Linked DNA regions of Homo sapiens. The protein of the gene in region 1 purifies or fractionates together with the protein of each later gene. This does not show direct contact. Each region holds a gene or a part of one and is shown in the gene's direction. Other genes may lie near its edges. The genes, in order: BTN3A3, UFSP2 and CKAP5.

What was found.
Region 2: the proteins of BTN3A3 (region 1) and UFSP2 purify together in Homo sapiens (affinity purification with mass spectrometry; one large-scale study listed by BioGRID and IntAct). This does not show direct contact.
Region 3: the proteins of BTN3A3 (region 1) and CKAP5 purify together in Homo sapiens (affinity purification with mass spectrometry; one large-scale study listed by BioGRID and IntAct). This does not show direct contact.

What each region holds. Positions count from the first base shown.
Region 1 is NC_000006.12:26,450,350-26,453,915, forward strand, and holds the end of BTN3A3 (butyrophilin subfamily 3 member A3 isoform a precursor), read left to right. Parts: intron 1-1,325; coding exon 1,326-2,062; 3' UTR 2,063-3,066; downstream 3,067-3,566. UniProt on the Homo sapiens protein: Plays a role in T-cell responses in the adaptive immune response.
Region 2 is NC_000004.12:185,408,942-185,412,595, reverse strand, and holds part of UFSP2 (ufm1-specific protease 2), read left to right. Parts: intron 1-182; exon of another isoform or gene 183-3,654. UniProt on the Homo sapiens protein: Thiol-dependent isopeptidase that specifically cleaves UFM1, a ubiquitin-like modifier protein, from conjugated proteins, such as CD274/PD-L1, CYB5R3, DDRGK1, MRE11, RPL26/uL24, TRIP4 and RPL26/uL24.
Region 3 is NC_000011.10:46,759,193-46,762,846, reverse strand, and holds part of CKAP5 (cytoskeleton-associated protein 5), read left to right. Parts: intron 1-84; coding exon 85-220; intron 221-347; exon of another isoform or gene 348-458; intron 459-653; coding exon 654-847; intron 848-2,062; coding exon 2,063-2,235; intron 2,236-3,404; coding exon 3,405-3,578; intron 3,579-3,654. UniProt on the Homo sapiens protein: Binds to the plus end of microtubules and regulates microtubule dynamics and microtubule organization. Acts as a processive microtubule polymerase. Promotes cytoplasmic microtubule nucleation and elongation. Plays a major role in organizing spindle poles.

The sequences.
Region 1 (3,566 bases):
TCAGACCTTCCTGGGAAGGAAGACACATAAAGGGTGGAGCTGAGGGGAAGGAGACACACACTGAGTGATACTGCAGGGAGAGTGAGGATGCAAATGCCAAGGAGAGGAGGTGATGCCTGCCCAAAGAACTTTGCACTTCCCAGGCTTCTCATGCCCCCTACTGCCTGTGTCACCTCAAATGATTTAATGCTTCCGAGCTTTCGCCTCCACATTTTTAAATGAAAATTGCAATCTGTGTTTTGTGGGGGTGAGGTGAAGACTGAAGTAATAATAAATATCCACTGGTCAAAAACCAAGTAAGAAAGAGATGACAAGTTCAAACTGGTTGGTTGAAAAAGGTTTGCGGAAAGGAGGGATAAGGGTAAGCAATAAGGAAAAGTGCAGTGCCCCCATGGTTCCCAACAGTGGGGAGCTGTCTTCACTCCTAGCCTGGGAGGTCTAGGAAGGGGAGGCAGTTACTGGAACCCAGAGAAAAGTAGCTCAAAAGAGAGGGCTCCCTGAGAAGAGTCGTCAGGCCTTGTTAGAGTAGCATCAGCTGCTGCTGGCAGGGAGGAAGCAGGAGAATAAACAGTGTGTCTCTCCTTTCTTTCTCCTTCCAATCTTCTATCAGGGCCTCCCATTGGCCAAACCCAACAGCAAACCAGAAGACAAGGGAGCCCAGTGGCACTATCCTTAGAGTACAGATTCCTAGGACCCAGAAGAGGGTGGAAAAAGCTGAAGGCTGGAGAGTGAATCTGGGGCCCCTCATAGAGCCCAGCATAGAGACGGCCTTGCAGCTATTAGAACATCAGGAGCTTCCTTCATGCCCTGCTGTGGGCTGAGTAAATAACATGATTCCCCTATACTACGCTAGAGAGTCATATTTTTATCCCCATTTTTCAGGTGACAAAATGCTTCAGATGAGGCTCCACCTTGTTAAATAAATTGGATGTATGGAAAAATAGACTGCAGAAAAGGGGAGCTCATTTAGTTCATAAGCGGTCGAGTGAAGATTGAAAATTAACCTCTGAGTATAAGGCATTAGGGGGCAGAGTCAATGTGGGGAGGGAAACAAGAAAAATGTAGCAAGAGGATCCTTATTGCTTCCTGAGGCAGCATCAGGGTATTGGGTTAGGCAGATACTGACCTTACTTTCATTTCCCCTCTGGACACAAGACCCCTTGAGCTTTCTCCCATGACATTGATGAGAGAGTCATATTTAGAGCAGGCTAGGGACGCCAGGTTCTGGAAGGACCTCCTTAGCATGGTCCAGGCCTTGCATGCTGAGGCTCTGAAATCCAGGAAAAATGGCTGACCCCATGGACACCTCCTCAAACTCTCTGCAGCGGATGTGATTCTGGATCCAGACACGGCAAACGCCATCCTCCTTGTTTCTGAGGACCAGAGGAGTGTGCAGCGTGCTGAAGAGCCGCGGGATCTGCCAGACAACCCTGAGAGATTTGAATGGCGTTACTGTGTCCTTGGCTGTGAAAACTTCACATCAGGGAGACATTACTGGGAGGTGGAAGTGGGGGACAGAAAAGAGTGGCATATTGGGGTATGTAGTAAGAACGTGGAGAGGAAAAAAGGTTGGGTCAAAATGACACCGGAGAACGGATACTGGACTATGGGCCTGACTGATGGGAATAAGTATCGGGCTCTCACTGAGCCCAGAACCAACCTGAAACTTCCTGAGCCTCCTAGGAAAGTGGGGATCTTCCTGGACTATGAGACTGGAGAGATCTCGTTCTATAATGCCACAGATGGATCTCATATCTACACCTTTCCGCACGCCTCTTTCTCTGAGCCTCTATATCCTGTTTTCAGAATTTTGACCTTGGAGCCCACTGCCCTGACCATTTGCCCAATACCAAAAGAAGTAGAGAGTTCCCCCGATCCTGACCTAGTGCCTGATCATTCCCTGGAGACACCACTGACCCCGGGCTTAGCTAATGAAAGTGGGGAGCCTCAGGCTGAAGTAACATCTCTGCTTCTCCCTGCCCACCCTGGAGCTGAGGTCTCCCCTTCTGCAACAACCAATCAGAACCATAAGCTACAGGCACGCACTGAAGCACTTTACTGATATTCATTCCATTATTCCATATGACAGTTGTTTTGAGTTTCGTACCACCTTATTGTCCCCTTATACAGATAAGGAAACTGGGGTGCAGAAAGGTGAATTAACTTTACAAAGTAGACATGACAAGTGAACAGCAGAGCTGGGATCTAAACAGCAATAACTAACATTAACAGAGAATTTAAAATGTTCTTAGTGCTGTGTTATAAGCTTTGGTGGATGTCACTCCTTTAATCCTCACAACACCCTGTCGGGTAGTCATATTTTGCAAGTATGGAAGCTGAGGCAGGGCAACATGAAGTAACTTACATAACTCATACAGTAATTTGTGCAGTTGGGAGATGTTCAGCCTTAGTCCCTGGCTAATTGCCTGTTCTTTTCCAGCCTGATTTTTTTTCCCACAGGAAGAGCCCACATGTAGCCCTGAGGTTTCCTTCCCAGGACAGCTGCAGGGTAGAGATCATTTTAAGTGCTTGTGGAGTTGACATCCCTATTGACTCTTTCCCAGCTGATATCAGAGACTTAGACCCAGCACTCCTTGGATTAGCTCTGCAGAGTGTCTTGGTTGAGAGAATAACCTCATAGTACCAACATGACATGTGACTTGGAAAGAGACTAGAGGCCACACTTGATAAATCATGGGGCACAGATATGTTCCCACCCAACAAATGTGATAAGTGATTGTGCAGCCAGAGCCAGCCTTCCTTCAATCAAGGTTTCCAGGCAGAGCAAATACCCTAGAGATTCTCTGTGATATAGGAAATTTGGATCAAGGAAGCTAAAAGAATTACAGGGATGTTTTTAATCCCACTATGGACTCAGTCTCCTGGAAATAGGTCTGTCCACTCCTGGTCATTGGTGGATGTTAAACCCATATTCCTTTCAACTGCTGCCTGCTAGGGAAAACTGCTCCTCATTATCATCACTATTATTGCTCACCACTGTATCCCCTCTACTTGGCAAGTGGTTGTCAAGTTCTAGTTGTTCAATAAATGTGTTAATAATGCTTACTCCTCAGCTTGGCTTTTTCTAGACTGTGGTGTCTACTCAGCACAGTAGTCTGCACACCCACTGTACTCACCACAGTCTCAGTTTACCTCACTGCAGCATTTTCACAAGACCCTTATTGGATGCATTTTCTGTTGTTGCCATCTGAATTACCAGAAATGTATAGACATTTTTTTTTTTTTGAGATTGGATTGTGCCACTGTACTCCCAGGCTGGAGTACAGTGGCACGATCTCAGCTCACTGCAACCTCCACCTCCCAGGTTGAAGTGATTCTCCTGCCTCAGCCTTCCGAGTAGCTGGGACTACAGGTGCGTGCCACCACGCCTGGCTAATTTTTTGTGTTTTCAGTGCAGACGAGGTTTCACCATGTTGTCCAGGATGGTCTCGATCTACTGACCTTGTGATCCACCCACCTCGGCCTCCCAAAGTGCTGGGATTACAGGTATGAGCCACCGCGCCTGGCTTCAGAAATTCATGAACTTAAAGCAACACAAATTTATT
Region 2 (3,654 bases), on another chromosome or scaffold:
CTCATTCCAACTGCATTTCCTGCTCCTGGCTGCCTGGCTAACTCTGCACCTCTCAGTTCAGATTCCCAAGAGAAAGAAAACTTGGCTATCGTATGGTGGCATTTATTAATACCTTCTGAGCGTCCAGGACTTTTGAGGAAATCTTAAGAATTAAAAAAATGCATATACGATACAGTACGTACCCTAGATGAGTTAGGGGCCCACTTGTGGTCTTGGTCATTAGAGTGTACTCAGGGCAGCAGATCATCTGCAAAAGCTGTGGGCCAACCAGCTTCCATAGAAAGTTCCTCACAAAAAGAATAGTTCCTTAGAAGAACCTGGACACACAGAAGGTATTGAATGAGTACTGATTGCTTTTTGACAATAAAATAGGTTCATTATATCTGTATTACAAGGTCGTAAGAAAAATATATACTTTACATATTTATCATGTAATATTTGATATGTACATATAACATATGCAAATTGTAAAGCACAGTGGGGAAATGAATACCAGGGAGCTCCTCCCTAATTTAAGAAGCAAAACTTTACCAGTCTGTGCTCTTTCCCTACCCACTCCTCTGCCTCCTCGACACAGTTCCAGGAGGAACTATTATGGGTTTTGTGTTCATCATTTCCTTCCTTTTTAAAAAGTAGTTTCAGCGTATATGTTACATATCAATCTCAGCAATGTCGCTTTTAGTATTGCATAGTTCTGAGTTTTATAAATATGGTATCATTCTGTACGTAGTCTCTGCAGCTTGCTTTTTCACTCAATATTACATATCAAACATCTCTGGTATTTTGTCTAACCATAGTTAATTATCTTTATGATTTTTTCCAAGTTTTTTTGCTGTTTAGACAATGAACATTCCTATACCTCTCGATACATATGTGCAACAGTTGTTAACATTTTGCTATATCTGCTTCATTTCTCCCTCTTTTTTCCCCCTCTGAACCATTTCAAGGAAAATTATAGATATATTATTTACCCTTAAATACTTTGGCACAAATCTCTCAACAATATAGATGTGCATTCATGAAATAAACTCGGTTTGGTTATGACTCATTATTTTTTATTCCCCTCTGGATTCCATTTGCTAATATTTTACGATTTTTGCATCTATGTTCGTGAATGATACTGGCTTATAATTTTCTTCTCTCATACTGTTCTTATTTTGTTTTTTTATTAGTGATATACTGGTTTACTAAATTAGTTAGGTTAATGTTCCTTTTTTAGTTTTTTAGAGAAGTTTATATAAGAGTGGTATGATCTTTCCTTGGTCATTTGGTAAAACTTGCCTGTAAAACAATTTTGGCGTAGCATTTTCTTTGTGAGAAGATTTTTAGTAACCAATTTAGTTTTGGTAACAGCTTTAGGACTTTTTGATTTTTATAAGTTATTTACCTAGGTTTTAATATATCTTGTAGTCATAATATTTTCTTTTTCATTCTTCATATCATTTTTATGCCTTGTGTCTTTTAAAAAAAAAAAAACTTTTGGCTTTGTTGGCCCCCTCTATTATAACTTCTGTATTTGATTTTATTAATTTTTGCTCTTTACTTTCTTTTTTTTTGCTCTTTCTTTGATTTATTGTCTTTCTTCTAACTTCTTAAGTTGGACATGTTAGCTTATTGCTAATATTTCTTTCTTTCTTTTTTTTTTTTTTTGAGATGGAGTCTTGCTCTGTTGCCCAGGCTGGAGTGCAGTGGCACAATCTTGGCTCACTGCAACCTCCGCCTCCTGGGTTCCAGCGATTATCCTCCCTCAGCCTCCCAAGTAGCTGGGATTACAGGAGGGTGCTACCACGCCTAGCTCATTTTTGTATTTTTTAGTAGAGATGGGGTTTCACCGTATTGGCCAGGCTGGTCTCAAACTCCTGACCTCGTGATCTGCCTGCCTCAGCCTCCCAAAGTGCTGGGATTACAGGCGTGAGCCACTGCGCCCGGCCTAATCTTTCTTTTTTTTGAGATGGAGTCTTGCTCGGTTGCCCAGGCTAGAGTGCAGTGGCATGATCTCAGCTCACTGCAACCTCTGCCTCCCTGGTTCAGGCAATTCTCCTGCCTCAGCCTCCCCAGTAGCTAGGATTACTGGCAATAGCCATACGCCTGGCTAATTTTTGTATTTTTAGTAGAGACAGGGTTTCATCATGCTGGCCAGGCTGGTCTCGAACTCCTGACTTTAGGTGATCTACCCACTCGGCCTCCCAAAGTGCTGGGATTACAGGCATGAGCCACCGTGCCTGGACAGCTTTCTTATTTTCTAATGTAAGCTTTTAAATTTCAAGCAAAGCACTGCTTTTAGTGTATCTTATAGGTTTAATTTGAAGGATTTTAGTTTTGTTCACTTCTAAGTATTTTTATATTTTTCTATTATGGTTTTTCTTTTGTCCATGTATTATTTAGAAGTGTTTGTTAATGTCCAAATATGTCAGAATTTATTTTTCTTTTTTGCTTTTTTTTTCTTCTTGTTTTAACTGGTTTCTGACTCTTGCCTCCTGGTCAGAAAGAATTCTAAGTGAAACTAACTCTGAAATTTATTGAAACTTGTATTTGTTCCCTAAAAAATAATAACATATTTGATGGCTTAAAACTACAAAAATGTATTGTCTCAGTTCTGGAGTTCTGAAAGTAGTATCACTGGGCTGACATCACAATGTCAGCAGGACCACCTTCCCTCCATAGGCTCTTGGGGAGAATCCATTCCTTAATCTGATGGCTGCCAGCATCCTTTGGTTTGTGGCCCCATCATTCCGATCTCTGCCTCCTCAGTCACATTACCTTCTCCTCCTATGCCCCTCTCTTTTAAGAATATATGTGATTGCATTTAGGGCACACTAGGATCCAGGATAACCTCCCCATCTTAAGATCCTTAATCACGTCTATGAATACCTTTGCTTTCCTTTTTTCTTTTACTTTTTGGCACAGAGGGTGCATTCACAAGTTCCAGGGATTAGGACATACATACCTTTTGGGAGCCACTTTTCAGCCTGTCACAATGGTCAAGTTATAAATTTTTCTATCTGTGCTTGGGCAGAATATATATTCTCTAATTGTTGGGTGAGGGTTGGTTCTATCTTGTCCCTATCTCCTCTCACTTAATTTTTTAAAAATATCATCAGTTTGGAGCCAGGCATGGTGGTGTGCAACTGTAATCCCAGCTACTCAGGAGGCTGAGGCAGGAGGATCACTTGAGCCTAGAAGTTCAAGACCAACCTGAGCAACATAGTGTGACCCAATCTCAAAAAAATAAAAACAAAAACCCAGTTCTTTAATAAAAAAAGACATATACATTCTTAGCACTATAAGTAAGAATTTATATGATATTAGTAATTTATTTATCTTTATTTTTTGACCCTTAACTTAGCGTCATCAAATAACATACTTGGGCTGTAATCATAGCAGGTTTATAAATTTAGACACATTCTTCCTGTGTCCCATGATATGGACCCTTCATTTGTTTGTTCATTCCTTTATTCCTTCCTTCATTCATTCAGCATTTATTCAGCAGCATTTATATTAACCGTGTGCCAGGCGTGTTGTAGAAGCTTGGGCCCAAAAATGGATAAGACACAGTGTATGTACTCACTGAGCTCACATATTAGTGTAAGTAGGCAGATATTTTTTAAATGATAAGTAATGTATCATTTAAAGTATATCAAGTCATGATATACT
Region 3 (3,654 bases), on another chromosome or scaffold:
TTCTTTCAAAACATAGTAATGCATGGGAGAATCATTGCTACTTAGGAAATGCCTCACTTAATCATTATTTTCCTTATCGACTAGGTTGGAGAACCAAAGGATGTCATTCGTAAAGATGTTCGTGCCATCCTGAACCGGATGTGCCTTGTCTACCCAGCTAGCAAGATGTTTCCCTTTATCATGGAAGGAACCAAATCCAAAAACTCTAAGCAGAGAGCAGGTGAAGCAAACAGTTTAAACTGAGATGTGAATCTCTGCAGCAGTAGCCTATAGAAGAAATAGTTTATAGATGAACAAATAAATTTCTCCAGTGCCTATGTAGTTGATTCCAACCTCCTGATTTAGACTGTGAGAGTGATGAGTTGCACACTGGTGGAGCCATGGTATCAGGTGATACAGGCACCACTCAGTATCACCCTGGTGACAAAATCAAGTGCACAGGGGCCATCTGACTCACAGGCATCTCTTCCTTTCAGGAGCACTTGCTGAAATACCATTTTTTCACTGATAAAAGGCAGTAAACAAAAAATCCTAGGCAGAGCCAGAGTAAGGTTTTAGTCCTTCATATATGCCAAGGGAAATTTCTCTAGTAAGGATAAGTCTCTGTCCCAAATATGTGTTGTCTCATTAATCTAGCCTTTCTCCCCCATCAGAGTGCCTGGAAGAGCTGGGATGTCTGGTTGAGTCCTATGGCATGAATGTTTGCCAACCAACCCCAGGAAAAGCCTTAAAGGAAATAGCTGTTCACATAGGAGACCGTGACAATGCTGTACGCAATGCTGCACTCAACACCATTGTAACGGTGTACAATGTACATGGGGATCAGGTGTTCAAACTGATTGGAAATGTGAGTGACTTCTCTGAACACTGTCAGCATGTCGTGAAAAGAATTGCAAGATCTCCTAGGTGTTAGGTTTCCTGTCCTCTCAACTGTAGCTAAGTTTTTACTACTTTTTAGTCAACTCAACCTATCAATGTGTCCTAGAATCCAGATAGACCCTTGAGGTGTCTCTGATTAGGCTGTTTTAATGGAAATCAAGTTTTCTTTTCTGAGCATTCTATTCATAGCAAATTTGCTTTAGAAATGAGTGCTATTTTTGAATCAAGAAATCTGAGCTAGTCCCGGGTTTAAATTCTGCCTGGCAGTCTGCTCTGTAATTTTTACTGCATCGAGTTTTTGGTTAAAAAGTGCTTATTTGTGTATAGTGTGGATGCTAGTATCTGTCAGATCACATCTTGCGCTACAGCCGTGAGCCAGTTTTTCACTCACATTAGGTTCTGCCTCTGACCTCTTATTTCGTTTGAGTGAGTCTGGACCTCCGTCTTCAGTTACCTCATAGTGTCACCATGTATTTACACAGGGCTTAAATATGTTTACTTATATTTTCTAATTAAATTCTCACTACTACCCAGTGAAGAATATAAAGCAGTTGGGAATTTTACAGATGACCAAAAATGAAGTTTCTTGCCCATAGTCACACAGCTAGATAGTGGTGACAAAACAAAAAATGAGGAAGCTTCATTTAATTTTTGACCTTTTTATTTGTAGTTACTAATTGGCTTTCTTTTTTTTATCGTTTCTTTTTTTTTTTTTTTTTGAGACAGGGTCTTGCTCTGTCACCTAGGTTGGAGTGCAGTGGTGTGATCATGGTTCACCGCAGCCTCGACCTCCCAGGCTCAAGTGATCCTCTGACTTCAGCCTCCTGAGTAGCAAGGACTACAGGCGCGTGCCACCACACCCAGCTTATTTTTATACTTTATGTATAGATGGGGTTTCACCATGTTGCCCAAGCTGGTGTCAAACTCCTGGGCTCAAGTGATCCTCCTGCTTTGGCCTCCCAAAGTGCTGGGATTACATGCATGAGCCACTGTGCCCAGCCCCTCTCCTTCTTTCATATCTCCTCTTCCTATAGCAGCTAGGCAGGTATTAATAGTAGTTGATTTTGAAATGTGGTGCTTTGAAAGTAAACATGTCCTAACATAGAAGGTTCTATTTGTTTTGATATGAAAATAGATATTATTGTGTTATCCAGTTAGGTTTCTAAATTTGGCCTCTTTACAGCTTTCTGAAAAGGATATGAGCATGCTCGAGGAGAGGATTAAGCGGTCAGCAAAGAGACCCTCTGCTGCACCAATAAAACAGGTGGAAGAGAAACCTCAGCGTGCACAGAACATAAGCTCCAATGCCAACATGTTACGCAAGGGACCAGCTGAGGACATGTCTTCCAAACTCAAGTATGTAGATAGAGATACTTGTCTGAGAGCATCTCCATGGCCTTTGCCTTGTGTGCTCACAGCCTGTCCTGTAACATAATCTTGAGTTCTTGTAGCCATTATCATGCATGACAGAGTGTCTGGGTAAATGTATTGTAACCAAATGTTTGATTCTTCAGTCTTCATTGTCTTTGTCTTTGTCTCAAAACCACTTCTAAATGGTCTTGTGCCTTCTTTCACTGCTTTTCCGTGGACAGAATTATGTATCGCACTTATAGGATGTAAGTACTGCCTGCTAATTTCTCATTAGCAGGGCTCTTATATCTTTCTAACTTCTGACTTGGATTCATCCCCTCTGGAGGGTGACTAGCTTAGAGTTTATAATCAGGGTAGAGGGTGTCCATAAGTACCCCATGAATCAAGTCTTCCACAAAAGTTCAATGTCATGTGGCTAAAATACTGATTCACTTTCTTCTTTGTGTTATACTTGGTTGTGCTTAGTTTCCTATTCTTGAGATAAGGCTAATTAAAATACATGCAACCCAAAATTGGCTTAGGGACTCAAAATACTGCCTCCTAAGCAAGACAGCTCTATTTTGGGTTGTGTCATGAGTATAATTTTAACGAACTTGAATTTGGAAACTTTGAATCCCTATTTCTTGGATGTAAAGCTGGCCCTGACCTGTCAAGAGTGAATATTCTAAAAAGGGGTGACTGGTGGTCTCACAAAATATAAAATGTGCTGAACACGGCATGGAATGGTACTTATGATTAGCAAAATTAAAGCACTGGTTAATTTGGTGGAAAAGAACCAGCCAGTCTAAATTTTTCTTATATATTTGCTCATAAGTAGTGAACTTTGAGTCAATACAAATATATTTTATTGTTTTCTGCCCCTTCAGGAATAGAAATACAAGGTTTGTTGGCTTTAGTGAACTAGAACAAATACTTATAACTTGGCAGGTAATGTAAGTACAAATTAAAGTTATCTGCCCTCTTAGGATATTCATGAACCAATGTTGTTACCTATTAAAGGCACTTGCTTAGACTCAGGGACTTAAATCATTCAGGGGGGCTGAAACCAGAAGTTGAACATCTGTCCTGAAGCTTTGGGGCAACTGACAGTGCTACTCTTGCCCTTTGGTTAAGAAGTCTCTTTTAGTTCAGGAGCCTCCTTTTGCTTCCCTTAGCCAAGCCCGAAGCATGAGTGGGCATCCTGAGGCAGCCCAGATGGTCCGCCGAGAATTCCAGCTGGATCTAGATGAGATTGAGAATGACAATGGTACAGTCCGATGTGAAATGCCAGAACTTGTTCAGCACAAACTGGATGACATTTTTGAGCCAGTCCTTATTCCTGAACCCAAGTGAGTTAAACTCTTTCATTTAAATATGAGCAGTTCATGATGATCAGACGGCCTACGTGAAATGTGCCCTTTGTAA